Linked DNA regions of Homo sapiens. The protein of the gene in region 3 purifies or fractionates together with the protein of the main gene of each other region. This does not show direct contact. Each region holds a gene or a part of one and is shown on either strand. Other genes may lie near its edges. The genes, in order: ANP32B, ATP10A, NLRP1, FBXW8, CASP2 and DCAF4.

Region 1 (4,751 bases), on a different chromosome or scaffold from region 3:
GTGTTGAGGATCTGTGGGCTGGCTCACAGAACAAATGCTGTAAGGCCACGAACTGCAGTCACTTTCTTTCTACTATGTGCTACAGCTCAGTCCCTTTGTCCGATAGAGTCCCATAAAATCAGAGAGCTAGAAGTCCTGGTAGATAAGACAAACACTATAATTCTCGCTGATGAAATGATACAATGGCTAAGATTTGCTTCAAAATTATATGGAGTGGGGAAGAAGGTAAGGGTATGCAGGAATAAAATAAGATCAGCTATGACCAATAATTGCTGAAGCTGAGTGATAAGAACATGGGGGTTCATTTTGCTATTATTTTTACCCTTTGTCACTGTCTGAAATTTTTGACAGTAAAAAGTTAAAAAAAAAAAAATCATGTACCTTCTCTTGGGTATCATTACCAGAGTCACAGTCAGCTGCTCAAATCAGGAACCTGAGAAACACCCATAATAACCCTGTGACTCAGGGGACAGGAGGCTGAGAGGCACCTGCATCTCTAGCTGGTTGTTCGGACCTCTAGTGCGGCAGTTCTTGCTTCTCCTGGGTCCTAGAGCACACCATGCTCTCACCTGCCTCCTGGTCTCTGCATGCTCTTTCCATCCTCTTTGCTTGGCTAACTCTGACTCCACCTTGGAGTCTCAGTCAACATCACTTCCTTAGGCAGTCTTACTCACCAGACCTCCCAATGCCAGGTCATAGGCTCTCACCATGAGTATGTGGTGCTTCTCCATTACAACACACTTTGCTTACTTGCAATTATTATTTAGAATTCTTAATTTAAAACAATTTTTTCTGTACAGATAGGGTTTGTCTATGTTGCCCAGGCTGGTCTTGAACTCCTGGATTCCAGCAATCATCCTGCCTCACCCTCCCCAAGTGTTGGGATTACAAGTGTGAGCCACCATACCTAGCCTATTTATGATTTAAAAAAAAAAAACAAAAAAAAAAAAACACCATTTCTCTGTAAGGTCCAAGAGGGTAGGAACCTTGTTTTTTTGTTCCTTTTTTTTTTAAACCACTATTTTCCGCAGTGCCTGGCACATAGGAAATGCTCAAGTATTTGTTGGCTGACCCATCTTTGCTCTCAGGAACTGCCCCCCACCTTCCAAGGAATGTCCTTTACTGGCTCTTGCACATGTGGCTGTTCTTCCTGTTTGAGGTGAACTTAAATAGACAACAAGCACAAATGGTTTTTAGGAAAAATGGAAAAACTGTAGAAGGGACAAAGGGACATAACATTTGGAAATAAGTGAGATGTCCTATTCTCTGTCCATTTTACCACCTTATAACTCATTAATTTTTGCCTGTCTCAATATGCTTCAAAATAAAACTGTAAAAATGCTTCCAGAGAATTATACCATTAACTGCACCCAAACTCCTTGATGCTTTTCCTCCTCTATTTTCTTGATAATTTCTGTCATATGTGCTAATTTTTAAAGAAAAGAAATACTCATGCTGACTGATGTGAAAACTAATCATTCTGCTTCCTCCAAACCAGGGGTTCCCAACTCCCAGGACTGGTACTGGTCTGTGGCCTGGGCCGCACAGCAGGTGGTGAAGAGCAGGCCAGTGACCATTACCACGTGAACTCCGCCTCCTGTCACATCACCTGTTAGATCCTCATAGGAGTGCAAATTCTATTGTGAACTGCGCATGTGAGGGATCTGGACTGTGCATTCCTTATGAGAATCTAATGCCTGATCTAAGGTGGAACCGTTTCATCCCAAAACCATTCAGCTGCCGCCCCCAACCCCTTCCCTGCATCTGTGGAAAAACTGTCTTCCATGAAACCAGTCCCTGGTGCCAAAAAGGTTGGAGACTGCTGCTCTAAGCCACCTGTACGTGAGAAGCGTTTTATTCTAAGAGTGACTGAGAATAAACAAACTCAGCATGCAAAGAAAACACAAACTAATCAGGAGGAATATCTTGGGTAGAAAGTATTAGTTATTTCTTAAAATCTGTAAATCTGTAAAATATGTATAAATCCTGGGTCAAATGCCAAAACTACTGAAAATCATCTTTTAATTCTATGTTATGATCAGAGATTATTTCCCTTATGAATGAAAAACGGAATCTAACATATAGTTATTTGAAATCATTACCTTTTAAAACTCTGGTCATATGTCAATGGAAGGGAAAGCTATTTTATTTATAGCTGGCAATAACAAACAGGTACCAAGTACCTACTCAGTGTCAGGCCCTGTGAATCAGGAGATAAGTATCTACCCAAGATGATGACTGTAGTGCAGTAGGACAGCGGTCCTCAACCTTTTTGGCACCAGGGACCAGTTTTGTGGAAGACAATGTTTCCACAGCCTGGGGGTGGGGGGATGGTTTCAGGATGATTCAAACGCATTATGTTTATTCTGCACTTTATTTCTATTATTACATTGTAATATATAATGATATAATTATACAACTCATCATAATGTGGAATCAATGGGAACCCTGAGCTTGTTTTCCCTGCAACTAGACAGTCCCATCTGGGGGCAATGAGAGACAGTGACATTCGAAGTGTGTGCTGCTTATGTCCAGTATACTCCATAATCTTGTTTTGGTTGCTGTCACTGCAGAAAACTTTGCTTCACAAAGATAGGATATTGGAAATGGAAGCAGGTTTTTCAGTGCTTTTTTGGCAATCTCAGGATATTCCACCTCGACTTTAATCCAGAATATATGGAGATTTTGAAGTTGTCTCAAACCATACTTTTAAGGCCACTGCCATTTGTGATCTCAACCAGTTGATCCTCTTCAAGCATGAACAAAGTCGATTGACCTGGCTTATTCATAAATGGGTTGTGGATCCATTCCTTCCCAGTTCGGGGGTCTTTTGTGGTTGGGAAGTAATGCTCAAACTCTTTTGAGAGCTGAGATAGGTGATCATGCACCAGCTGTGAGAAAGAAGGCCCTGGCTCACTCTCTTTCAAAAATCACTCCTACTGTTTGAAACATGTCAAAAATCCCAATGCTCAGAACAGAAAACTAAGTATCGTATGTTCTCACTTGTAAGTGGGGGCTGAATGATGAGTATACATGGACACATGGAGGGGAACAACACACACTGGGGCCTGTGGAGGCTGGGGACGGAGAGCATCAGGAAAACTAGCTAATGGACAGTGGGCTTAATACTTAGGTGATGGGATGGTACACGTTTATCTCTGCGACAAACGTGCACATGTACCCCTGAACTTAAAAAAAAAAGTTTTACCACTCATTCTGTGTTACTAAAATGTTCTGCTAGTGGTGACTGTTATTCTTAGAGAAATCTCTGGAGCAGGCCTCTTAACTCAAAAACTCTGGCCAGTGATCCACCTTTAGAACGCCATCTCGCTTCTCTGTGTAAGAGAAGTATTCTCTGCATCCATCTCACAGAACTGCGTGAACAGACATGGGTTAAGGGCATGTACTTTAATGTGGTTAATTTTAATCACATCCTGCAAAACGTTAAGTTCAGGTGACATTTGTCAGCTAGCCAGCATTTCTCTATGGATGACACAGTGCATAGACTCACATCCAGAAGCGACCTCTCTGACTCGAGTAGTGAAACCAGAAAGCCGTCCAGCCATGGCAGCCGCTCCATCTGTGCATATACGACACAAAATGACCAATTCAGTTTTCCTGATATGTAATCGTTCAAAAGACTTGAATAGTTCTGCAGCTGTGGTGCTGGTTGGCAACGAAGTACACATAACATAGTCTCATGCACATCCTCCTGAAAATATATTGCACAAAAACAAGCATTGTTGCCATGTTGTCAACATCGGCAGACTTGTCAACCTGCAATGTGTACCACGGTGACTCATCAATCCTCTCTAACAACTATGCCTCAATATCCTCTACTATGTCATCAATTCATCTAGTTATGGTGCTAGCTCAAAGAGGAACATGTGCCACCTTTTGAACTGCAGCTTAACTGCAGCCTCTCCTAAAAGTTCATGACAAATGTCCTTAGCAGCAGGCAGGATCAACTCTTCAATAGTAAAGGGCTTCTTACTTTAGCAATGCAGTTAGTTAAGGGCTTCTTAGCTTTAGCAATGCAGTTAGCCACTAAGAATGAGATGTTCTCAGTGCAGTCACATTTGATGAAGTGGGAGCTTTCAATAATTGCCTCTGTTTTTCACGTTCATGTTTATTTCTTTTGAAAAACTCCAAAGGCTTGTCTTTTAAACGCAGGGTGCTTGGTCTCCAAGTGGTGAAGCAGTTTTTTTTTTGTTTGTTTGTTTTTTGAGATGGAGTCTTGCTCTATCGCCCAGGCTAAAGCACAGCGGCACAATCTCGGCTCACTGCAACCTCCGCCTCCCAGGTTCAAGCAATTCTCATGCCTCAGCCTCCCGAGAAGCTGGGACTAAAGGTGTGCACCACCATGCCTGGTTAATTTTTGTATTTTTGCAGAGCCAGGGTTTCCCCATGTTGGCCAGGCTGGTCTTGAACTCCTGACCTCAGGTGATCTACCTCGGCCTCTGTAAGTGCTGGGATTACAGGCATGAGCCACTGTGCCCAGCCAGTGAAGTGGTTTTGAAGGTTTCATGGCTTTGTTGGATAGCTTGTTGCCACATATTATACAAAGTGGGCTTGGAGAATGTGAATCATCTGTTGCAATGAACCTGTAATTTAAGTAGCACTCTTGGTATTTTCTTTTCAATGAAGCTTTCTTTTCATTGGCAGTCTTGTCTTCTGCTGTCTCATTATTGGGTCTTTCCCCCTTCTCAAAGAAGCTCTCCAGCGACGTTTTTTACTCATGTTGGATAGTT
Region 2 (5,362 bases), on a different chromosome or scaffold from region 3:
CCATCTGTCCCTACAGTAAACTCTGGGTGAAACCAGCCTCCTCCTCCTTCTATTCCCAGGGCCTGGCACCACCTCTTCCAGCCTTTCTGGGACTGGAAGAATTTGACCTGCCTTCCCAGGGAACAATAAACAGAAGTAGGGCATTGCGCCCACTGTCCTCAAGGCAGCTGGGAAGTGAATGAAAAATGCTGACAGTTCCTTCAGTAAGGAAGAAGACAGAGTCTGAGGGAGAGTTAAGATATCTGGAGTCAAGGGCAGAGTGGAAGGGGAGGGGAACGTAGATGGGTGTAGTCCAAATGGAAGCTAAAGTTTCAAAGTCCCATGAAGCCTTACAAGGTCACAGAGACAAGAGAATAGCTTTTAGATCCCAACCTCAGTTTCCTCATCGGCAAGATGGGTGTGATAGTTACTATAAGGATCGAATGACATAATGGATTCAAAGCACTTTGCCAACTGAAAATAAACTGTATTTCTCCTGAGGCATAAGTATTTCTAAAAAGGAGGCTACAGGAGTTACGGGCTCAGTAATAACAGGAAGTGGTATCTGTGCAAAGGCTTAAAACTGTTGAGCCCCACCAGGGCTATGTGGTGGAGGCCTCGCTCAGGGGACACGGAGGCCATTTGTGTAAGGGGTGCCGCTCTTGTCCCTGCTCAGGCTTCTGGTGAACAGGGGCCAGGAAATCCCACAGCCCGGTCTAATGACAGTCACTCTTGCTGACTGGCCAAAGAGCAAGGCTTGGGAGCAGGCAGAGTGGTGTTTCTGAAAGTGTGGGCCATCATATAAGAGTTACGTGCACGCTAATCTAATACATTCCTGGGCTCAATCCCAGGCCTGCTGAGTGAGACACTTTGGAAAACTGTAATTTTAACAAGCGCCTTCAGTGACTCTTACAAAAGTTTCAGAAGCACGAGCAAAGAAATATTCAAAAAGCTGTGCGGGCGGGAAGACCTGGGTCAAATCCCAGTACCACGACCTTGCTGCTGTGTGACACTGGGCAGGTTTACTTAACCTCTCTGAACCCGTTTACTCTGTTTACAAAAATATGGAGCATAACCACTGCAGTGTTGCTGGGAGGGTGAAAGGTACTCAACTACAGAGGCACGCATCCATGGCTTCATCCAAGCTATGAGTGCCTGTGTCTAAGGCATTCGTGAATGCCTACGTTTAAGAGGCAGGAGCCACTCTGACCCTCCTCTTTTAGGGGAACAATCTGCCACTAAGAGAGCATAGGGCTTCCTAGAGTCTCCCCATGCATAATGGAAGCCAGATACCGCTAATGTTCTATTCAGAAGCCCATCTCAGTCCCTGTTCCGGGGTCAAGCAAGGTGAGGCAGGAGGTAACGATGGGCTGAGCTTTGGAGGAAAGCTAAGACGACCCACCTTTCTCAGGGACAGGGCCTTGAGGTGGTCCAGGCTGCTGGACACAGCTCCAAGATGGATCTACCAAGGGGCTCTCCTGGGGTGGAGAGCATAAAGGATGAAAAGGCCGCAGGCCTCTGGACAGGTCCGCCGGAGACTCTAAAACTCAGGGAGGGAAAAAGAGCAGGAGTGGTCCATCGCAGGGTCACCCCTGGTACTGCCCGTGGCAGGGCTCACAAACACCCCACAGCCTCTTTCCCCCAGGAAGCAGGTTAAGATGAAGAAAATTAGGCAGGCAGCTACCGGGCGGTGCCTGGCTCGCGGCTCATGGCTCACAGTGGAGGATGGACACTGCTGTTATTTCCCCTGCCCTGGTACCTGGGCCGTGCCAGACATATCAGCACTTGGCGGCAGTTTCACTTTGCTGCTGTCCTGAGCCGAGCTGTTAGCAGACTGAGCTTTACTGTCCTGTGCCGGCTGTTCAGAGACCACTGTGCCTGGCCGAAGACTGAGGCAGGGACTTCAGGCCAGGGGGCCAGGCTGGCTTTTCCTGCCTTTCACTTCAGGTGGGAGCGGCTGTGGATGAGGATGTCCAGCGGCCGTCGGTTTCTAGCCTTGGGATCATTCTGGCCCCGACACGGAGTGACAGGGGATCCCCACGCGTCCCCGCATCCAGGGCGCCCCTTTAGCTGCGGCGGAGGCACAGAGAGGCCTTGGCGGCGCTGTGGCTTCGGTCGGCACCGGGTCCCGCGCAGCCGGGCCCTCCACCCTGAGTGGAGCTGCCTTCTAAGCACCCAGCCCCTGCCAATCACTGTGCCCAACACCAAGTTCCCGGGGCGCCCTGCCCTGCGCCACCGCGCGCTCGCTCGCCCGCCCGCCCAACTCACCTGCTGAAGACCAGGCAGCCCAGGTGGTTGATCTTGTGGTCGGAGCGGTGGCGGCTGTAGTCCTCCCACAGGTCCCTGAAGGCCGTGATGGCCAGGATGAAGAGCACCGGCGCCAGTGCCAGGCCGGGCTGGAAGGCGTTCACCGCCGGCACGAAGTTGAGCAGCGCGATGAAGACAAAGTACACGTTGGCCGGGCGGTGGAACTGCTCGAACAGGTTCTTGGGCAGGAAGGACAGCAGCGTGTACTTGGTAGTCTTGAGCCGGTTGTCGGCCAGGTGCTGGGCACACCCGCGCCGCCGTCGCCGCTCGCCCTTGGCCGCGCCAGCCGCAGGGTCCTCGGCGCCCGGGGGCGGCAGCAGGTTGGAGCGCACCGTGCGCGTCCTGCCCTCTCGGCGCCTCCGCCGTCCCGGAGGCCCGGGCTCCTCGGTCCCCGCCGGCTCCCGCTCCATGGCCGCGTGTCGCCGCGCCCGGCTCCTCCGCCGCTCACGCCCGCCCGCGCCGGCCTCTTAGGTTATCATCACTCGCGGCCCGGGCGCGGCGGTGCGAGCTCCCCGCCTGCGGGACGCACGGAGACCGCGGTCAGCGCGCCGCCTGGCCGGCCCAGCGCGCCCAGCCCGCGCCCAGCCCCGTCCACTCCCGTCCAGCCCCGCCGCCCGGCCGCAGTCCCCAGGGCGCAAGCTGGGCGGGTGCCGCACAGAGCCCCCTTGTCCTCGCCGCCCGCCCCCGGCCCGGGTCGTTTCCGCCGCGGTGGCCACGGCCCCGCCCTCGTTCCGCGCCCGGACTGGGCCACGCCGGATAGCGGGAAACAAAAAAAGCCCGAGCTGGAAACTTCAGAGAGGTTTAGTTTCGTTTCCCAGAAGCATCAGTTCGGTCCCAAAACGCTGCAAACGCGCGCTGCCTGCAGTAGGAGAGAGGAAACCGCGAAGCGCGAGAAAAGGCGCCCCCGTCCCCAAGCAGCCCGCGCGCCCTTCCAGGGGCCAGACCTGCTCCATCCTGGACGGCGAAACGACCTCGGGAGACCCCGGTTAGGACCTTACTCCAGGGATCAACTGGAATCAAAATCCAAAGGATCCATGGCATCCAGTGCTCCAATTTTTAAGTCTTTTTTACGCAGGACCTCTGCTCCTGGGGAGCCCTGGGAAGGGCGATTCCGCGTTGCCTCTAAGAACTTCTTTCCTACCCCACTTCCCAGCCCCCACCACTTTCAGATTCCGTTGTTGGGCGAACTAGACCGTTTCCTTTCCACCATCATCATTACTGCCTTTCCTTCCTCTCCTAAATAAATTCTTTTTCTTTTTTCTGTTCTTTCTTCATGGAAAGGAGAAATATATCGCTATAGCAAAGACAGAATTTGGTTTGCAGGTATTTGAGTGTCTGTTTCCCTCCCTGGGAAATCATGAGGACCGAAACGCTCCTTGTGCGCTGTAGCTCTGAGGTGGCTGTCATGGCCCGGACGGCGGGGGAGGCGAGGATGGTTGTGGGGAGGCGAGGATGGTTGTGGGGAGGAGAGGGGAGCGTCAGGAGGGTGTCCCAGAAGTGTGGGGCGAAGGGCTCCCCTCCACATCATGGGGCATCCGAGAAGGGGTGGGAGAATAAGCACGGCATGGAAAAAGGAGCTGGGAGTCCCCCACGTCCGCAGTGAGACCCCACAGATGTTTCATGGCTGTGACTGTTTGCCTCCCACTCAAGAAGTACAGAGATGAGAAGCAGTTATTTCTTGCCCAGGAGGCCGTGGCTGGGCGGTTGGCCGTGGCCCCAGGCTCTTCCTGGGGGTGCCTGCTAACAAGGCACTGCCCTGGATGGACTCAAATCACGTCTTCGCCAGGACCCTGGCTTGGGGAGGCCCTCCCCTCCAGCACCCTGGCTTACCCGGCTCCAGTTATGACATTCTTACATCTCTGCCCAGTTTTGCCACCATCCACAATGTTGCCCAGAACCCAGTGTTAGAAGGTAGAGTGGTGACAGGTGTGAAGAAAATAATCCCATCCCCCAGTCACAGGGGTGGGCTTTTGACATGTAGAGGCCCAGATCAGGGAAAGGTTTGGCTGAAGTCTGCATTGTTGGGGAAAGGAGTCAGGTCTCACAGTCAACCAGCAGAAACCCAAACGGAGCATCAACTGCAAATGAAGGCCCACAGCGCCTGCAGTCTTGAGGCCTCACATCCCATGGCTCCGTGTTTTCCTCTACCAGCCCACCTGGTGACCCCCGAGGCCTTCGGCCTCCCTACACTTCGGCCTCCTGTCTTCACAGGCATCCCCGTGGACCCTTCGCCCAAAGTCTCCAGGGGTGTCCGCGCCTACCAGACTCCCAGCTTCAGCCAGTCCACACTGTTGCCAAAGTAATTACCGCCTCATTCCATTTGCTTACCCTGGAGCTTCCAGGAGTACTCCTGGTGCTTACAAAGCCAAATGCTGATTCCTCAGGCAGAGGTCCCTTGAGGCCCTGAGGGGAACCAGCTTGCTGATTTTCTTCAGCCCCTCCCTGGTTCAGGCCCAGCCCCAAGGTGAGAGGTCTCCTTATCCTTCTCAGAACAGTCCTTACTCATCCCATCCACATTCCGCTCTAAGGTTCCAAGATTCTGTGAGTCACAATGCTCCTCAAGTCTGGAATCTTTTTCCACCTGCTCTTCCCCAGTGCAAAGTCAGGATTTCCAGGAAGGCCTAGCTCAGCTCACCTCTGGAAAGGTCTCCAAGCTGTGTGATCTGGGGAATCGTGGAGGGGTTTTGAGCTCAGGTGTCTTCTGCCAGCTGGACTCTGAGACCCTGGCCTGCTGGGGCGAGGATGAGGCTCTGATGTGGTCTGGTCAACTCTGGGTTGGCCATCTGCACCACAGGGCTCTAACAAGGGCCTGCTATAGGCCATGAGAACCACTGTAAGTGTCCTTGTTCGGCAAATACTTACTCATCCCCTGCTGTATGCCCGGCAATGTTCCAGGCACAGGAATTCATCGGAGAGCTAGAGAGGACAAGATGTTGTCATGGAGCTGCAGCAACTGAACGAAAAACCATGAGAGCCCACGGAGGGCTTTGGAAGGGATGAGGGATGGCCTTTTCGAAGAGAGGCACTGGAGTTGAAACCTGAATGGGACAAGATCAGGTGGAAGAGGCTTCCAGAC
Region 3 (5,271 bases):
TTTTAGACTCACGCGGTATATGTGCAGGTTTGTTACATGGCTTCTTTTTTTGAATGGCAAGTGGTGTGAGTAATTAAGTAAACTGATATACTTTGAGCCTAGGCCATATACGACCACAAAATCTACAAGTTCACTCCTTGCTGGGTGCAGAAGAAATCCTTTTAACTTAAAACCTCTCAGATTTCAAAGGAGGCATCCTCCGGCATTGAGAGGCAGCATGGTTCAGTGGTTAAGGAACCTGTGGCATCAGGAGCCTCTGTACCTGTGGCTTTAGTATGACTGTCCTTATTGCCCAGATGAGGGCACTCCCTGTGTAAGAGTTAAAAGTGTGGATTGCTGCGTGAGAGAGAGTGAAGGCTGAATTCCATCTTTGCTAGTACTAACTGTGAGACTATCTTTTTAATCCTTGGTTTTCTCATCTCCAGGGTATGATAATAGCAATATTTATCTCACGGAGTGGTTGTAAAATTTAAGTCCAATGTACACGTAAAGCCCTGGACATGGTCTAACCCAGAGAGTGTCCAGTGAGCACTGATGGGCATGGGACTAGCTGTAGGCCACTTGTGGGGTGAGGAGCTCAGTGGAAATTGAACCCAGCTCTCCTGACCCCAGGCCAGTGCCCTGTCCAGTAAACCAGGTGATGTGTAACCCCATCCAGGCTCCCCTCTCCTTGCTCTGTTGTCCCCCAGATGTGCTGGGTAACACATCTGTATTTTAATGTCCAGGTGCCTCCTGGAAACAGTGCCTTGGACCAGTGGAGAGGCTCCAAGGGTGGGATTTCCTGAGGGAAATTTCAGATGTTTTCCAGAACCTCTGCTTAGCCTGCCAACCTGGTCCCCAGGGGACTCTTTGTCCATACATTTGCCTCTCCCACCTCACCACCCCGCCAGGAGCTCAGTAGGGTCTCACCTGTGTAGTAAATTCCTGACGTTTCATCCAGAGGCCATTGGGTCCCAGGAGCCTCCTGCTCTCTGGGTGCTAGGCTGGGCTGAGGTGGGGATCCCCAGCTCCCCAGCACTGCTGTGGATGTGGGGGCGTTGGGTGACTCCTGGCTTGGAGACTCATGGTCTGGGGAGCTTGGAAGAGCTTGGTAGAGGAGTGAGGCAGAGATTTCTGGGGGGAATGAAAAGAAAAATAACCATTTACTGAACATTTATTTTCTTTTAGGTGCATATATTTTAAACTCTCACAACAGTCCTGAGAGATGGGTCTTAATAATATTATTTTGAAAACCATGTTGAAGTAGAGGGGCAATTTTATTCTCTTAGTAGTGAAGAGAGAAGTCATGTGAGGGAGCTGGCTTGGGCCGAGGACTAAGCCTAGCCTCTTCTTGGGGTCTGTCTGGAAAACAGAGTCCTCCTTGGAACTTCTGGACCACCCTGACCCTAAGGATCTTCAGAGCCCATCAATATTATGAGCTGAGTTCTCGGGCAAGGACCATGTCACGAGTTGGGCACCCAGTTGGGGAAGACTCATTGCCTGACCCACATGGGTCTCAGCTTCCCCATCTGCCACATGGGGAGGGATGCAATCTCAGCACCGGAAGGTCCCTGAAAGATCAATTTCAGGCCTACCTCTCACAGCCCATCCTGGCTCCCCTATCCTTCCTCTGCTGTCCCCCATGTCAGGTCCCCATGCACAGACATGATCCTCTGGGTGGGGCCCACCAGCTGATTCACAGCTCCACCCAGGGCTGTCAGCCTGCCTCAGCAAGCCTCACCTCTCCAGCGGCGTCCAGATGTGTCAGGCAGCTGTCTCAAAACCCTTCTCTCTGAGCCCTGGGTGCACCCCGCCGGCAATTCATGGATCCAGGGCATTAGCACTGCGGTGGAGGTGGGTTGGCTGGGAGACCCCAGGTGGGGTTCACTTGGGCTGTAGGGGAATGAGGGAGAGTGGCCTACAGGAAAGAGACAAAGAGGTTGGAGACACATCAGAGGGGCAGGGGCAAGGTGCCAGGGAACTGAGCTGGTCTCCTCTCTCAACCAAGAGAGGTCAGGATACACCAGTGAACCCGCTGCAGCCCTCTACAACTTCCTCTAGAGGCTTGTCTGAAGAATGATGTTCTTATAGATACTGCTAGGCAAAAAATCCTCATCTAGGATCAGGAAATTTGCATATCTGTCTTGGTCCTGACTATCTCCCTGTGTAAATCACTACTCCTACTGAGCCTCAGCTGTGCTTTATTGGGCCAACGGCATCTGCAACCCAGGGTGGCTAATAGTAATAATAACAGCAGCAGCAGCAGCAGCAACAACAGCAATGGGAGATCTTATTTATTGAGCACTTACTGTATATCAGACTCTGTGCTAAATGTTTAACCTGGATGATCTCTTTTAACCCTCACACAGCCCAGGGAGGCGGGCTCTCACTCTCCCATTTTGCAGACAGAGAAATAGGCAGAGAGCAGTGAAGTGATTGGCCCAGGGTGATAGTGCCAGGACTGGTGATAGTGCCTGACTCCCAAGTCCGTGCTCATAACTACAATGCCAGGCGAGTACCGGGAATGCACTTGAATAGAAGAGGGTGTGGGGCTCTGAGGTGCAGCAAGGGCCCCCCCAGCAAGCCTCCTGGCTCCAGCATAGTCTGGGGCCTGGATCCCCCTTTGAGAGGGCAGTTCCATGTCACTGCTCAGAGGAAGGCCTGGCAGGGAGGGCTCAGTGGTGGGGTCCCAAGAGGGCAGGGCAGGCATGAGGGCCAGGGGATGTCCCGCGGGCAGTGGGGTCCTCTGTCCACTCACCTGCCCCTTCCTGGGCTTGGGCGCACAGTGACCTCAGCCCCATCTGCTCCCAGGTATGGAGGGCTAGGTCCCAGGCCCGCTGCTCCCCATACTGAGCCACCAGGTACGAGGCCACCTCCATGCCACTCGTCTTCTCTGGCTGAGCGGGTGTCTCACCCGAAGAGCTCCTGGAGTGCGCTTTATTGGCGAGCAGAAGCTGGAACTCCTTCAGCTCCTCCTTCTTCAGGAACTCCAAGTAACAGGCCAGGCGGCCCCAGGCTCCGCCAGCCATCTCTGTCCCGGAGTTAAGAGGGTGTCTGGGGGATGTTCCCAGGTGGTGAGGGTATCAGGCAGGCAGAGAACAGTGCTGTCCTTTGCCTTGGCTCTTACCGTCTCTTATTCAGCATTCGGAACCCAGTTTTATAAATCCCAGGGCACCTACAGATAGACGCCGATAGAGGGGGAGTGGTAGGAAAAGCCAGGGGAGGGAGGAGCCCAGAGGGGCCTGCAAGACACTGGAAGAAGTCAGCTGATAGGGAGGTCCTGGGATGGGGTCCAGGGCCAGGCAGGGAGGGTGAGGGTGAGGGGAGATGTGGTGACGGGAGATGGGGTGTGGGCAACGCTCACTGTTCTGTGTTCCTCAGATTCTTCCCTCTCCTGGGTCCTGGACTCCTGAGATCAACCCTTGAGCTGCAAGGCTGAGAAGAGGTGGGGTGGGAGGAGCCGCAGAGCAGGGAATGGGCTTTCAGAACCCAGAGTGGAGCCCCGGGCTGCTGGCTCCCAGGTTTCTTCAGACCTCTCCAGGCCCTGGGGCACCAGCCAGCAAGAACAGCGCCTAGTCAACAAGAGCAGGAAGGAAACGTCACCCAGAGGAAACCCACAAGGGGCGTGGCCAGGGGGTAGGATCAAACCAGGCCTGGGTAGGCCAGACTCAGAGTCACAGATTCAGATGGGCCACATGGCATCTATAGGCGGACCAGGAGCACAGGCCCAGACCAGCTGACGCTGCAGCAGGTACAGGCCCATACTAAACACGGTGTGTGCACCTCCACATGGGCACTCCGCCAGCCCATCATCTAGAGCCTGTCTGCAGAGCCAGGATGCAGACTCTCCGAGCAGTTGTGTCTGCAGCCCAGGCCCAGCCTCTCAGGATGGGTGGGGCCCCCTGTGTCTGCCCGGGCAGCTCCTTATTGGGAAACATTAGAACTGGGCCAGGGAGCATTTTTCCCAGCCTCTCATGGTTTTGGGAGCTTCTTGAGTTGCACTGCATGTCCTGCCATGCTACCAGGGGCACTAAAGCATGTGTCCCAGGCCCAGGGGGCTGTTTGCCTTCTGGGCAGCCCAGCACTTAGCTGGTGAACATTTCCACCTGAAAGCAGAACAGCCCCTTCCTCATTCCTGCAAGCAGGCCTCGGGGAGCCAGGGGCAGACTTCCTCTTTCGTGGAATCTGCAAGATGCCAATGACTTCAGGTTGAGGAATGACATTGCCTACTCATTTGCTGATGTAACACACCACCAGGAATTTCTGGAGATGCTTTGGTTTCACTTGGACTGGCAGAGCCCAGGCTTCAACCCACGGCTTGCTTGGACAAGGACTCCTTATGTGCCTGATTTATTTCTTTGAGCCTCAGTTTGCCCATCTATTAAATGGGACATCATAGGTTTACCAAGAGGCTTCAATTCAGCAAAAGGTCTTAGAGTCTCTCTCTCTTTCCCAGGCTGGAGTGCAGTGGCAAGATCTCGGCTCACTGCAAGCTCCCTCCACCTCCTGGGTTCCAGCGATTCTCCTGCATCAGCCCAGCTTCCTGGGCAGTTGGGATTACAGTCACTCACCACCACGCCTGGCTAATTGTTTTGTATTTTTAGTAGAGATGGGGTTTCACCATGTTAGCCAGTCTGATCCGAGGTGATCCGCCCACTTCGGCCTCCCGAAATGTTGGGATTACAGGTGTGAGCCTCCGTGCCTGGCCTAAATAAATTTTATAAATGTTAGTTTTAAAAAATGGCTAATAAGCACATTGTAGGACATTCTAATATCAGATTGACCAGAAGTGGAAAAGTGCTGTGCTAAAAGTGGGATGATCGGGAGGCTCTGAGCACTCCGTGAAGGACCGTGAGACTCCATGTAGCGGGAGGAATGGCCTGGAGGAGGGCTGTGTGGGCTTTTTTTCCTCCTCACACCAGCCAGTTCTGGCACCAACTCTCTAGACACCAACTGGTGTCCTACAGTGCAATTCTGACACTGACTGCCTGGAGTTGGCATCAAACCTCACAGGTTTAGGGTTTCAGTGAAGAGCTGGCCTCATATCAGATGCCAGTTGCAAATGGGGTGCCCAGACCACTGGCATCTCTGTCTGACTTGGTGACAAATTCAAGGGTTCCCACAGTCCCCGGCAGGTTCAATAATTTGCTGAAATGACTCACAGGACTGAGAAAAGCACTTTATTTATTATTATCGGTTCATGATGGAGGATACGACTCAGGAATAGCCCAACGGAAGAGATGCCGAGGTCAAGGTGTGGGTGGGGGAGGGGCACAGCGCTTCCTTGCCCTC
Region 4 (4,751 bases), on a different chromosome or scaffold from region 3:
CAAGTGTGAAGGCATAATAAAGAAAGACTTCTTTTTCTTTAACAGAAAAGGACTCAAAGTGAACTACCTGTGGATACTCTCTGAAAGAAAGTGGCATAGCAAAATACCAGAACAAGAAGACAGATGGCTTAAGTGGGACCTGGTGTGTCTGCTGGGTCCATGGAGGCACACAGGACAAACCTTCCTATTAACAAGAAGAGCTGCCCATGGATCACAAAGTAAAAATATATGCTATGCATGAAAAACACATCTGTAAAGGAGGATGAAAAGATGTTGCAATTTTAATGCTAGAAAAGGCAGAGTAGTTCAAGGCAAAAGCATTCACTGAGAGCACTTAAAACAACGAAGGGGCAGTTTACTCAGTGTTCGGTCAGACCTGGAAAAACAAACTCCATGGATCACATTTCTTTTTATAGGTTTTGTTGTTTATTATTTTTTTTAAAGACAGGGCCTCACTCCCATCACCCAGGCTGGAGTGTAGTGGCACCATCATGGCTCACTGCAGCCTCAGCTTCCTGGGCTCAGGTGATCCTCCCACCTCAGCGTCCCGAATAGCTGGGACTACAAGCACGTGCTACCACACCAGGCTAATTTTTTTTTTATTTTCAGTAGAGACGGTTTTGCTGTGTTGCTCAGGCTGGTCTCGAACTCCTGGGCCAAGGGATCTACCCACCTCAGCCTCCTAAAGTGCCGGGATTACAGGCATGTGCCATTGCACCCAGCCTGTTTTTTTTTTTTTTTAATAGTTTCTTTAGTCACTATAATCTATTCAGAAATTATTTCTATTTCTTGAATTTTTAAAATCTCCAAATCTGAAAACTTAGATGAGTAAATGGCTTTCTGGGAAAATAAGAATTATCAAAACGAATCCCCAGGAGACAGAAAATCCAAGTAGATAAAATAACAAATAGCAGCCTGAGGAAGCCAGCAAGGGGCAACAATCCCTGCAAAAAAAGAACAAGTGACTTTGGCCAGACCTGTTAAGGACCAGCTGCCTCCAGGGCTAAGTTAACTGTTCCACAGCCTAGGAAAAGGAGGAAAGCTTCCAAATTCTCCATGAAGCCAGCATTCTATTACCAAAGCCTAACCCTGAGAGCATGATCAAAGAAAACTACATATCCGAGTGAAACATCAGGAACAGACTCCACAGCAAGATGCCACAGACAAGGGGAATCAACGAAAAACCAGGCAGTCACGTCCATGGAAGCCGAAAGCAACGGGATGAAACGTCACAGCCATTCCAGATGTGGTCTTTAGAAACAGTGAGGCACTGGCACCACCATTACTTCACATCGCTTTTTAAAAACCAGACACAATTAGACAAAAGGAAAAAATGAAAGGTTAAAAAAAATCGGAAAGAAGTGGGTAGACTTCTTATCAGTGAGAAGGGACAGTCCCAGAGAATTCAGTAACACAGAGTCAAATATAAATTTATATGCTAAAATCTAGTTTAAAAATAAATAGAATCAAAGAAAATGTCCCATTTGTAACAGCAGTTAGAGGCAAAATACTCTATAATAATTTTCTCAACTTGGAGCTCTATCAATCACATATATTACACAAATTACAGAGAGCGCAAAGAGTTAAACATAAACTATAAAACATATTCAAAGGAGGAAGACCTTTCTAAACATAACAAAATATGGAAGGTGAAAAAAGGGTTTAACTTTTTCCTATTGGGGGGAACAATCAGAAAGTCAGTCCAATGATAAACTGAGGAAAATGTTTGCAACAAAAAGGGCTAATGTCTTATAATAAATGCCTTCAAATTAGTAAAGACTGACAACCCATTATTAAATCGACAGAAAAGATAAGAAAAAGCAATTCACAGAAAAATACTAATGGCTTTTAAACATGTGTAAGATGTTTAAGTTTGCTGGTAATCAGATAAATTACACAGTAAAACTACAATGCAATGCCACTTGTCACCAATCTACCCAGCAAAGGTAAAGTTTGGTAACATGCCCTACGAGGCACTGTGTGGCAGGGAGACATGGACAGGTAGGTACTCCTAGACAGCTGAGGCGAGCAGAAATCCTTCTCTGGGGAGTGACTTGGCAATATCCAACCAAATACCACATGCACCTCACTTCTGAGCCGGCAATTCCACTTCGAGGAGGTAGCTACACAAGAGTCCACATACACGCAAGGCCAGTCACTGCTCTTAGTTGCAAAAGAGGCTTCTGTTTCAGACAACATGTTGACAGTTCCACTGTAAAACGCTTAAAAATGCTGGATAAAATCCTTTTAAGGGCACTGCTGAGCTCACGTAGGAAGTGACTTCCCCAGGACCTGAGCTGAAAACCAGACAGGAGAGGGTGAGCTGCGACTTCAGGGGAGGGGAGGCTGCTGGCAAGCGCCAGGCTCAGCTCCGTGGTTTCATCAAACACACTGAAGGGCCACCCTAGGCAGGGAGCGGAGTATGGAGACTCCTGCTTTCAATACAAAAGCATGAAAGTATAGTCCCTGAAATTAAATTTGGGAGATAGGCTGGAAGCAGATCAGAGAATGCGTGAATCAGAAGAAAAATGTGAAGAAATTACCAAGAATGGAGCACAAAGAGATAAATATGAAAACTGCGAATGGGGGTATAAGAGACATGAGGGACAGAAGGGGTGGTGCACCACACGCCCCAAGTTCCGGAAGGAGAAAAACAGAGTGCGGACAGCTAACAGCTGATGTTTCCCGAACTGATGAAAGACATGCATGCCGACTCAATGCACACGAATCAAACACAAAATACATATCTAAGAGTATAATTTAAAAAATGGGGAAACACAAAGACCAAGAGGTCCTAAAAGCAGCCTGAGAGAAAAAGACATTACCTATTAAGGAAAGATAATTAGACTGACAGGAAAAATCAGACACATTTTAGCTGTCATGAACTGGAATGACGTAGGTGACACGATTAACTAGCTCTTCAACTGAGTGCTAGTTAAAGCAATTATGGTACATCCATACAGTGGGACCCGGGGCAGAACTACACAGGCTGACTGGCAGCCGTGCGCACAGGTGTGTGCTGGGGGACATGCATTTAGGCTGTGCGTGTGTGGGCGGCCCCCAGAGAACGCTCAGCATTTAAGCAGTCGCAATGAGGGAGGCTGACAAGGCTGCTGGGAAGAGGGGTGCGCTTCGCCCTCTAGGCTACTCTGCTTTTGAGGCCCATTTTGAATGTGCGTACTTCCTGTTTAAATAAAACCAAACAATTTTAAAGATCAAATTCTGGAAGCACGTACTTGAAACATTAACAACAATTACCTTGGAGAAGAAAGAGGGCAATAAAGGCGGCTTTTGTGTTTTATTCTGGACGCTGCCATGTTTAAAAAACAAGAATTCATTCATGACCGGGAGGCCTTCAACAGTCACACTCTCTTTCTTGAGCTGAGAGGTGGATGCGCGGGCATTCTCGGTTACTCTTGAAACTGTATGCGCACCTTATATACACTCCCATACATATGTTCGGTTTCATAATTAAAAAATAATACTTTCATCTATTTCTTAGAAAAGGTGAAATAAAACAGGATGGAACAACACGTCGTTTTAGGACACAGAGGAGAGACTGTTTCTTCTTCCTGCTAGGCCATGTAACTGACAAGGCAACCCAAGTGAATAGATATACTCAACGCTGGGAAACAGGTAGCACAGCAAATGGGCACCAGAATATGCCAAGACAACCGATTCCAGGGACAAGTTGAGAGTTCTCTGTATAGAGAACATAAAATTCTATGTGGCCAACATTAACAAGCCCTTCGGACTGGCCACTGAACCTTTCTGGACCAGCATTAGATGGTCTTGAAGAGGTCTGCTAGATCCAAAATTCTGAGATCCATAACAAGTCCATCCAGTGGACACAGATGATAATGTATAGATGATACATAATAGGTCCGTTGCTACAAATGCTGCTCAGTCCCTGACTTGCCAGTGAGGGATCTGGGAGCAGAAAGATGCAGAGAGAGCTTGAAGATGACTTTGTAAACAAAGGTCTCTCTCTGTCACGTTTACAGACACCTATCCTTAGGCATGCGTAGGTAAGAGAAGAGAAAAAGTATAAATGCTGTAAAGAGAACTCTAACCTTAGTCCATAATGGGAACTTGAAAAGGATTGGGGAAAGGGGGAGCGGAAGTGTTTACCAAGTACTTTTCAGTGCATATTTGGTTAATCAGAGTCTATTCAGCTATGGTGATTTCCATAAAGAGCTCCTCTGTTGAATATTTATACTCCATAATTTACAGTTTGGCTGTTAAGGAGACAAAGGCAAACACAAATTTGGTCCAGAAGTTCAAAGTTTGCCATCTGTTTTCCTATTGTATTTAGATACCAGCATGGATGGCTCCAAACAAAATAAACAAATAAACCAAAAGATGCGGCCTCAGTGTATTTTATATCACTAAGGAAAAAAAAATAGGCCAAACCAGCCTTGAATTTCTCCCCCCTGGGAAAAAGGAAAAACATTTTTCTGACATCTCCTTAGAGAAGCACCACTCTGGCTTCTCGTCGACAGAAACAGCAGACAGCACAGTGTGCTAAGTCCACCCAAGCCATTCAGATTCACATGAAGAAACAGGTATCTGCCTCGGACATCTGACAGCGCGCAGCACAGGCCCGAATGCCGTGCGCCTTGGCAAAGCCCGTCGTCAGCTCAGCACTCAAACCAAATACTCGACGCTGGGAAACAGGTAGCACAGCAAATGGGCACCAGAATATGCCAAGACAACCGATTCCAGGGACAAAGAGGAGCCAATGGTAGATA
Region 5 (4,751 bases), on a different chromosome or scaffold from region 3:
GGTTCAAGCAATTCTCCTGTCTCAGCCTCCTGAGTAGCTGGGATTACAGGCGCATGCCACCACGCCCGGCTAATTTTTGTATTTTTAGTAGAGACAGGGTTTCATCACATTGGTCAGGCTGGTCTCAAACTCCTGACCTCAGGTGATCCACCCGCCTCGGCCTCCCGAAGTGCTGGGATTACAGGCGTGAGCCACCGCGCCCGGCCTTTGTTTTCTTCTTTGAGCAAAATTAACTTCTTTAACTATTAAATGTTAAATTCTATTAGCATCAGCTCCAGAGGAACATTCACAGTTATGTATTCTCTTGAAATTATATATTCTTGAAAGAATTTTTTGATTATCTGTCATTACCTTAAGATTTCTATTATTATGGTTTGCTTCTACTTAGAAAATACAGATACTTTTCAACAACACCAGTCTCTTTATTTCTAGTTATATTGCAGACTTTCAAATATTTTATGTAATTGCATCTCAATTATCTACAAACAGAAGTATTCCGAACAGATCAATTAGTAGCTCTCAAACTTTAACATATCACAGTGTCCTGGAGGGCTTGTTAAAACACATTTTGCTGGAGCCCAAGATTTCACGTTTCTTCCAAGTTCCTGGGTGATGCTGCTGTTGCTGCTTTAGGGGCCACTCTGAGAACTACTGCAATATGTTATATTATAGAAGTGTGCTTTTTATTTTGGCAGTGTGTGTGATTAAATATATGTGTGTTTTAACTCTTCCACCCAGATAACTTACTTATTTTCATTACATTTTATTCAAGTTTATAATAAAATGAACTTGTTTTCTTTCTGCCCATCTCAGAAGACCCAGACATCGTGAATTATAGAGGGAGGCATAGGTTTAAACATGTGTGCCCAATTATTATGCTCTTTAGGTACACAGTATAACCTTCTGATGGATGGACCAAATGCTTAAGGTAGTGCTCTTCATGTATCGCAACTTAGTGCAAGATAAACAAGATTCTCCAGGCATGGTGGCACATGCCTATGGTCCCAGCTACTCTAGAGGCTGAGGCAAGAAGATTCCTTGAGCCCAGGAGTTCTAGGCTGTAGTGTGCTATGCTGATCAGGTGTCCAAACTAAGTTCATCATCAATATGGTAACCTCCTGGGAGTGGCGGACCACCAGGTTGCCTAAGGAGGGGTGTACCAGCCCAGGTCAGAAATGGAGCAGGTGAAAACTCCTGTGCTGATCAGTAGTGATCTTACACCTGTAAATAGTCACTGCACTCAAGCCTGGGCAATATAGCAAGATCCTGTCTAAAAAAAAAAAAGATAAACAGGAAAACAGTTCTTAAGTTGGACTACAACATTGACCAGTAATAGATTTCTTTGAGAAAAATACTCTTTATTCGACATGCACATTGTAATGGCACATTTTTTGCAATGTGTCCCAGACACAGTGATCGGTTTTTGGTTTTTTTTTTGAGACAGGGTCTCTCTCTGTCACCCAGGCTACAGTGCAGTGGTGCAGTCACAGCTCACTGCAGCCTCAACTTCCTAGGCTCCAGTGATCCCTCCACCGTAGCCTTTAGAGTAGCTGGGACTATAAGCATGCACCACCATGCCTGGCTAATTTTTTTTTTTAAAGATGGAGTCTTGCTAGGTTGTCCAGGCCAAGTCCTTTGTCATAATATCTCATTTTTATCTTCACAAACTTAGAGAAAATATCCTCATAATTTTTTTTTATAAAGTGAAAAGTGAGGTCTCAAGGGTCTGAGTAAGCTGTTCCAACTCATGAAGCCAAGGTTCAAACCTAGATTAATCTGAACCCAGGACCTGTGTATGTAATTACTGCCCTGTACAGAATCCTCCTTCATAGCGTGCTCTTTCTGAAACAAAGCATTTTATACAGTCATCATCATTATCTCTTGGACACTTAGAATCTTAGAAGACAACATACAAGTATTGCTATTCTCTACTATCATGATGCTGTCACAGAACAGTTTATTTTCGTGTAGCTGAATGTGCATGTTACTTATTCATAGCTACACTTTGAGTCACCCTTGTGCCATTTATATACAAGGGCAGTTGCTCTAATGAAGGATCTGGTTATGAACAGGGAATTAATCAGAGTTGACCAGCTCATGATTAGCTTCTTTAGTAACTTGCTTTAATCCAGGAGCTGTTTGCCTATCTCAGTGAGTCTGAATCTGTATTCAGAATATTGTGTCTGAACTCATATGCATTTTTCTGGTGAGTCCATAGCTTTCTTTAGTCTCTCAAAAGGTCTCTTCTTTTATCATTGACCACAGGAATATACATAAAGCGTTTTATCTTCTAATAGCTTAGGGTTTCAAAAAGAAACCAAACTTTGATGCTTATGTTGGTGCTGACCTTAGTGCACAACACTAAACATTCCTTTCTTTTAGGAAATGCAAGAGAAACTGCAGAATTTTGCACAGTTACCTGCACACCGAGTCACGGACTCCTGCATCGTGGCACTCCTCTCGCATGGTGTGGAGGGCGCCATCTATGGTGTGGATGGGAAACTGCTCCAGGTGCGGATACCCTGGTGGAAGCCAACTGTTGAAACCAGGCTGCTTTACCTCCTGCCTGCTGTCTGTCAAGTGATGGCTACTGTTGCATGTGTAGGACTTAGGAGGCCCCGCTGAATGCTTAACCTCTCTTCTTCCTTCTTTCTTTCTGGCAGCTCCAAGAGGTTTTTCAGCTCTTTGACAACGCCAACTGCCCAAGCCTACAGAACAAACCAAAAATGTTCTTCATCCAGGCCTGCCGTGGAGGTGAGTGCCCTAGCAGACCAGCACCTGGGTGGTGGCTCCTGGGCAGCCTCCCACCAGCTCTCACTTTCCTGTTTGCTCCTCTCAGGTGCTATTGGATCCCTTGGGCACCTCCTTCTGTTCACTGCTGCCACCGCCTCTCTTGCTCTGTAAGTGTCTCCCAATGCATGGGGTGTGCTGGGACTTGGGCAGCCCATGGCTCTCAGGCTGGTCAGCTCTCCGTGCACCACCATATCCTGTTTTCAGGTCTCTTATCCCGTGTCTTTGCCTTCCTTTCTGAGAACTCTTACTCTTTTCTGTGCTTCATTAACTCTGGTGCCCTTTTTTTGGTTACTCATTCCAGTTACGGATTTTTGATCTGTCTTTTTCCTGTCCTTCTTATTTTATCTCCTTTCTTTCACTCTTTGTTCTTTTCACTTGTTCCATATACTTCCCTGTTTACCTACACTTCCATGCTTGCCTCCTTTCTTCTTTCTTCTTACCATTCTTGGGTCATGCAGGATAGCAGAACAGAATCCGTGTTGGCCTTTGACTCTTCCTTTTCCGTGAGCTGCTGCTGCCCCTCTTTCTCTCATGCAGTCTGTTTTACTCCTTTAAGAGCCAGGACTGCAGGACGAGGATTAAAAGACACATAGGTGTGCTTCTCATCCTGGAGGAAAATAATAGTAATTAAGAGCCCTAACTTTGGAGTCAAATTCTGACTTCACCATTTACTAGTAACGTGAAGTTAAAGAAGTTAAATGGCATCCCTCCATCTCAGTTTCCTCAATATAAAATGAAAATAGTCCTTGTACCTACTTCATAAGGTGCTTGTGATGGTTAAATGAGATTATGCATTTAAGGGCTTACATAGCTCAGTACCTGGCTCACAGCACATCCACAAAATATGCCAGCTGTAACTCTTAAAACACGATCAGTGCCGTAAAGGGCTTATAGTTTGCTTTAAAGGTCACTTTGTCCAAACATTCAAATAATTACTTTTTTAATCTCTCATGTGGCCAAATGTAAATAGCTAATATTATTGTCATCCTGATCTAGTATTACCGCAGAATATAGTCTGCTGAGGCCCTGCAACATGACTCAGACTACGGCAGTTACTACCGCAAAAGCAGAAGGAAATGTGGCCTCTCTAAGGAGCAGACCAGTTACTCAGGAAAATAAAGTAAATATACATGAAGTAGCTTAAGACTAGTTCACAGGCCTCATGTAAGCAAAGGTGAAATTAGCAAGGTACAAACTGTACTTAGGAAGGAGTATGCAGTAAGAGTAGATCATTTTAAGTGAGGGTAGTTTAAAGAGATTTTTTAGATAAGATAAGGCTTAATTTGTACCTGGAGTAATTTGATTTACATAGTTATAGAGTAGTATCTAGAGTCTGTCGTAGGAAAGAAACAATACAATATGATAAGTACACTGAGAGGCAGAGGGCATGTTGTGTCTCCCCTCCTCCCAAACAGATGCTCGGATCTGATTTTAAAATAGCATCTGTGTGAGTATGTGAGATGTGGCTGGTCACAATGAAGTGGGTTCACCTCCTTACAAACCTTTAGTCATAACTGAGGTTTTGGACATCAGCAGGTAAAAGTAAGGAACAGTTGGGAGCTTAAGTAAGAAATAATGTGATGAATTGTTTTTCCAGCAAGGTTGCCATGGAGGGGGCTGCACTAAGGAAAGAGGTTATGGGTCAGCAACTTTACTTTTCATTCCCTGCTCTATCCCCAGGCCCAGGGCACTGCCTGATGCATGGTAGCACTTATAAATGTTCAATGAATGGATGAAAATTAATCTGCCTGAAAAACTGTAGGTATTATGTAAAAAACAAATATGAGGATATTGTGACAAAAGAACCAGTGACATTTATTGATTGATGGATCTGTGATATAAAGGTGAGAGAGGAATTCTCCTTTCTCTTTAGCTTGGCCTGTTTCCTTTAGGCGTCTTTACTAACAAAACGACGTTAAATTGTGATTTTCTCATCCTATATCCAGGGATTTAATACA
Region 6 (4,751 bases), on a different chromosome or scaffold from region 3:
CCACTGATCCTTTCTGATGCTCTTTCTCCCCTGTCAAAGAGTACTAGATGGCACACAGAGGAGTCCAATTTCAATCTGGCCAAATTTCTACATGGGGCAAACTTTTATATTCTGCCTGTCCCAATCCAACCAACCATGAGAGCAAACTGCTGGGCCAAGACATCACTGTTGGTCCCAAAGGACTGCCGGTGTCCCGTCACCACGTTGGTCAACAGGACCCGCCGAGACAAGCCTGGCGGAGACAGAGATGGGCTGGTAAGATTATGTCACATGTAGTCTGGGGAGAGGGACAACTACATGGGGTTTTAAGGCCTGTTAAGGCCTCTTCTCTGGGCACCTGGGGAGCCAGGCTCACCTGTACTGAAGCAGTTATTTGCTTGGATATTCAGGGACCAGGCACAGGACCAGGCACCAGGGATCCGGAAACTGCAGAGCATGCCAGGCCGGTCTATTCCTGCTAAGGGGATAGGAGAATGTAAAGTGTGGCTGCCTTCTAGGCAGGCCAGGGACCACTGGGTTCGGAAAACATCCAAATATGCCCATAGCTGCTCAGAGGGTCTATACCTTTGGCCCCATTCTGGGTTTTGTGGTTGCAAGAGAGACTCAGCTGGGATGCCTGGCTCACAAGTGGTTATTCCGAAAATGCATCTTTGTTAACGTTCCCAGTAGTCGTGTTTACAGTACGAATAGTACTGATATCAGGGAGGTAGTATACTGTTGGAGGTAAGGTGGCTCCGATCCTCGATCACCTACCAGCTATGTGATCTCAGGCAAGTGTGTGTGTATATACACACACACACACACACACACACACACACACACACACACACACACAAATAAATAAATAAATAAACTATATATATATATATATATATATATATATATTTTTTTTTTTTTTTTTTTTTTTTAAGACAGGGTCTTGTTCTTTTGCCCAGTCTGGAGTGCAGTGGCGTGATCATGGCTCAATGCATCCTCAACCTCCCAGGCTCAAGGAATCCTCCCATCTCAGCCTCCCAAGTAGCTGGGATCACAGGTGTGAGCCACCACACATGGCTAATTATTTATTTTTTGTAGAGATTGGAGTCTTGCTATGTTGCTCAGGCTGGTCTTGAACTCCTGGGCTCAAACGATTATCCTGCCTTGGCCTCCCAAAGTGTTGAGATTACAGGCATGAGCCACTGTGCTTCGAAAAAATATTTTTTAAAATAAACTTTTGCATTGATAGAACGTACAGATTGTAAGGATACAGTTCAGTGAGTTATCACAAACTAAATATAGCCATGTACCCACCACCCAGGTTAAGAAATAAAACAATCCATGCCAGGCGTGGTGGCTCACGCCTGTAATCCCAGCACTTTAGGAGGCCGAAGCGGGTGGATCACCTGAGGTCGGGAGTTCGAGACCAGCCTGACCAACATGGAGAATCCCATCTCTACTAAAAATACAAAAATCAGCCGGGTGTGGTGGTACATGCCTGTAATCCTGGCTACTTGGGAGGCTGAGGCAGGAGAATCGCTTGAGCCCCAGAGGCGGAGGTTGCGGTGAACTGAGATCGTGTCATTGCACTCCAGCCTGGGCAACAAGAGTGAAACTCCATCTCAAAAAAAAAAAAAAAAAAAAAAAAAGGCCGGGCATTGTGGCTCACACCTGTAATCCCAGCACTTTGGGAGGCCGAGGCAGGTGGATCACGAGGTCAGGAGTTCGAGACCAGCCTAACCAACATGGTGAAATCCCGTCTCTACTAAAAATACAAAAATTAGCCGGGCGTGGTGGTGTGCGCCTGTGATCTCAGCTACTTGGGAGGCTGAGGCAGGAGCATTGCTTGAACCTGGGAGGCGGAGGTTGTGGTGAGCTGAGATCGTGCCATTGCACTCCAGCCTGGGCAATAAGAGCAAAACTCCGTCTCAAAAAAAAAAAAAAAAAAAAGACAAGACAAGACATAAAACAATCCAGTACCCCAGAGGCCTCCCTCACATCCCTTTCCCAATTACTACCTCCCCAAAGGGTACTGTGAGCCTGACCTCCAACACTAAAAATTACTTTTGTAAGACAAATTCTGAAACTGTCTGCCTCAGTTTCCTTATCTGTAAAATGGTGGTAAGACACACTCCTGCCTCATAAGCTTGCTGTGCAATGAAATACCAGGCACTGGGCTAAATGTGCATGATCTCACCTAATTCTCCACGGATGTGGACTGAGAAGGCCCTGTCCACTTTAGAGAGGTTCAACATTCCATTCAAGTTGGCAAGGGGCAGAGCTGGGATTCGTGCCAGGTCTGCCTGAAGCCCACACTCTTAAGAGGCCTCTCACCCTGGTCTTATTGATCCTAATTTTCTGATAGACTGAAATGTAATATCCAGAATGCTGTCAGGAAGGAGGAGTCAAATTGCCTTAACGTAGGCAGACTGTTAAGTATCCCTGATAGCACCTGAGGTGCTTTGGACCTTCAGAGGTGTTTTCTGAATGATGTGCACGGGCGTCCGAATCTGTTCTGAGCTCACGCTGGTTTACATGCGTGTTAAGTCTGCTCTGGCTGCTGAAATGACTGAAATGGCCCAAGATGGGTAAAAAGGGGCAGATGCTGTAAAAAAAACACATGCTTCTGGTACTAACCCTGGGACAGGCTTAGGGAATCCTCCCACAGTGCCTCTGCAGCGGCCCCATACTTCTCTCTAAGCCACCCCCACACAGCTCTCGGGAGACAGAGGACAGATTTCTTTAAAGGAGGAGAACCCTGTACCTGGGTGACTATTGACGAACAGTGATGCTGGGAGCAGGGTGGCACAGCCTGGAGTCTCTGCGAGTCCCATGAGGCATAGCCTGGAAAAAGCTGTTAAGGACAGTTAGGCACAAGGCTCCCCTCTGGGAGGAGGCATGGACATTTACCCTTCAGAAAGTCATACGGCACACAACCTAGGCCAGAGTAACCCCCACCGTCCAGATTCAACATGCGTTTACACTGCCCACATTTACCTTCAGATGTTTTTTTTTTGTTTGTTTGTTTTTGAGACGGAGTTTCGCTCTTGTTGCCCAGGCTGGGGTGCAATGGCGCGATCTCGGCTTACCGCAACCTCTGCCTCCCAGGTTCAAGCGATTCTCCTGCCTCGGCTTCCTGAGTAGCTGGGATTACAGGCATGTGCCACCACGCCCGGGTAATTTTGTATTTTTAGTAGAGACGGGGTTTCTCCAAGTTGGTCAGACTCGTCTCGAACACCCGACCTCACGTGATCCGCCCGCCTCGGCCTCCCAAAGTGCTGGGATTATAGGGGTGAGCCATCGTGACTGGCCAGCTTCAGATGTTTTTTAAAGGGAAAAACAAATCAGATATAGTTAAAAGCTGGGTGTGGTGGCTCCTGCCTATGTAATCCCAGCACTTTGGGAAGCTGAGGCAGGAGGATCACTCGAGTCCAGGAGTTCGAGACCAGCCTGGGAAACACAGCAAAACCTTGTCTCTACAAAAAATACAAAAACTAGCTGGGCGTGGTGGTGTGTGCCTGTAGTACCAGCTCCTTGGGAGGCTGAGGTGGGAGGATTGCTTGAGCCTTGGAAGTCAAGGCTGCGGTGAGCTGTGATCATGTGACCGCACTCCAGCCTGGGTGACAGAGTAAGACCATGTCTCAAAAATAAAATACTATTAAAAAGCCCAAAAAGCCCTCTCTGATCCCTCCCTAGTCCAATTCTCCCTTCTCCTCTACTCAGAGAGAACTGCTCTTCTCAAATTGGTGTAAGTTCTTCTAAGCCATGCTGTATTTCCACTACATATATTTGTCAATAAATAACACAAAGCAGCTTTTGTTTAAAAAAAAACATACAGAAATGGCATTGCATGGAATATCTCACTACCAGCCCTTAAAATTTCTGCTTATCTGAATGGGTACCAGGTGATACCTCACTGTTATTTAAATTTGCATTTCCCTGACTACATGTGGGTGTCTCTGTTCACATGAGCATAGTCGTTGGAGTTCCCTCTCTGACCTGCCCCTTTATACCCTTGCCTACGTGTGTGTCTTTTGACTGACGCGGTTCCTCTCCTTTTCCCCTCATAGCCAAACTTTGTTCCAGAGGAGCCTGTATTTATTCTCATTCCCTTGCCTTTCCTCCACTGAAATCCAGGCCTGACCCTCACCTTCCCAGAGAAATGTTCTCATCAGTCTTCAATGAGCCTCTGGTTTCTAAATCTGATGGAAACATTCCAGTTCTGCCCTATGGCCATGTAGCCCAATTTCTACTACACACTCCTTGGCCTCAACCCACCACTCTCTGGGAGGTCTATCCTGGCCTTCTCCTATCACAAGATGCCCGGGCTAGAGCCTGCACCTGCCTCTTGGTGCCCTTCCCTCCACTCCTGATACCTCGTTTCACGCCCTCACCACCGCCCTTAGTCTTGCAGCAGCTTCTGTCTGAGGACTTGCTCTCGTCCGTCTATCCCCCAACAATGCCACCAAAGGAATCATTTTCAAAAATGACTCCACAATCACAACCCCCTGGGACCTCCCACAGCCCTGAGCGAGCATTCAGTCTTGAAAGGCCCTGCTCCCTAGCCAGAGACATCATGAATATCAAACTGCTGCCAAACATACCAAGCTTTCTCCCAACTCCTCCTATTAGGGGTCCCTGGCCTCTTCCTGCCCTCATGGGTCTCCCTCCAGGAAGGTGGCTGCAATCCCTCCTGCATGCAGCTTTCCTCCTACACTGAGGACTTGTGGAGCTGCCTGTCTCTATCTCCTTGCAACTGCATATACTCGATAGGT

Evidence for each region.
Region 1: the proteins of NLRP1 (region 3) and ANP32B purify together in Homo sapiens (affinity purification with mass spectrometry, with the first as the bait; one study listed by BioGRID). This does not show direct contact.
Region 2: the proteins of NLRP1 (region 3) and ATP10A purify together in Homo sapiens (affinity purification with mass spectrometry, with the first as the bait; one study listed by BioGRID). This does not show direct contact.
Region 4: the proteins of NLRP1 (region 3) and FBXW8 purify together in Homo sapiens (affinity purification with mass spectrometry, with the first as the bait; one study listed by BioGRID). This does not show direct contact.
Region 5: the proteins of NLRP1 (region 3) and CASP2 purify together in Homo sapiens (affinity purification with western blotting, with the first as the bait; one study listed by BioGRID). This does not show direct contact.
Region 6: the proteins of NLRP1 (region 3) and DCAF4 purify together in Homo sapiens (co-immunoprecipitation; one large-scale study listed by IntAct). This does not show direct contact.

Annotation. Positions count from the first base shown.
Region 1 is NC_000009.12:98,006,463-98,011,213, reverse strand, and holds part of ANP32B (acidic leucine-rich nuclear phosphoprotein 32 family member B), read right to left. Parts: intron 1-4,751. UniProt on the Homo sapiens protein: Multifunctional protein that is involved in the regulation of many processes including cell proliferation, apoptosis, cell cycle progression or transcription.
Region 2 is NC_000015.10:25,860,401-25,865,762, forward strand, and holds the start of ATP10A (phospholipid-transporting ATPase VA), read right to left. Parts: upstream 2,928-5,362; 5' UTR 2,697-2,927; coding exon 2,248-2,696; intron 1,910-2,247; exon of another isoform or gene 1,382-1,909; intron 1-1,381. UniProt on the Homo sapiens protein: Catalytic component of P4-ATPase flippase complex, which catalyzes the hydrolysis of ATP coupled to the transport of phosphatidylcholine (PC) from the outer to the inner leaflet of the plasma membrane.
Region 3 is NC_000017.11:5,580,950-5,586,220, forward strand, and holds the start of NLRP1 (NACHT, LRR and PYD domains-containing protein 1), read right to left. Parts: upstream 3,561-5,271; 5' UTR 3,009-3,560; coding exon 2,738-3,008; intron 1,898-2,737; coding exon 1,721-1,897; intron 1,114-1,720; coding exon 910-1,113; intron 1-909.
Region 4 is NC_000012.12:117,018,346-117,023,096, reverse strand, and holds part of FBXW8 (F-box/WD repeat-containing protein 8), read right to left. Parts: intron 1-4,751. UniProt on the Homo sapiens protein: Substrate-recognition component of the Cul7-RING(FBXW8) ubiquitin ligase complex, which mediates the ubiquitination and subsequent proteasomal degradation of target proteins.
Region 5 is NC_000007.14:143,297,541-143,302,291, forward strand, and holds part of CASP2 (caspase-2 isoform 1 preproprotein), read left to right. Parts: intron 1-976; exon of another isoform or gene 977-1,272; intron 1,273-2,382; coding exon 2,383-2,511; intron 2,512-2,663; coding exon 2,664-2,754; intron 2,755-2,839; coding exon of another isoform or gene 2,840-2,900; intron 2,901-4,751. UniProt on the Homo sapiens protein: Is a regulator of the cascade of caspases responsible for apoptosis execution. Might function by either activating some proteins required for cell death or inactivating proteins necessary for cell survival.
Region 6 is NC_000014.9:72,949,867-72,954,617, reverse strand, and holds part of DCAF4 (DDB1- and CUL4-associated factor 4), read right to left. Parts: intron 2,821-4,751; coding exon 2,741-2,820; intron 458-2,740; coding exon of another isoform or gene 455-457; coding exon 356-454; intron 233-355; coding exon 135-232; intron 1-134. UniProt on the Homo sapiens protein: May function as a substrate receptor for CUL4-DDB1 E3 ubiquitin-protein ligase complex.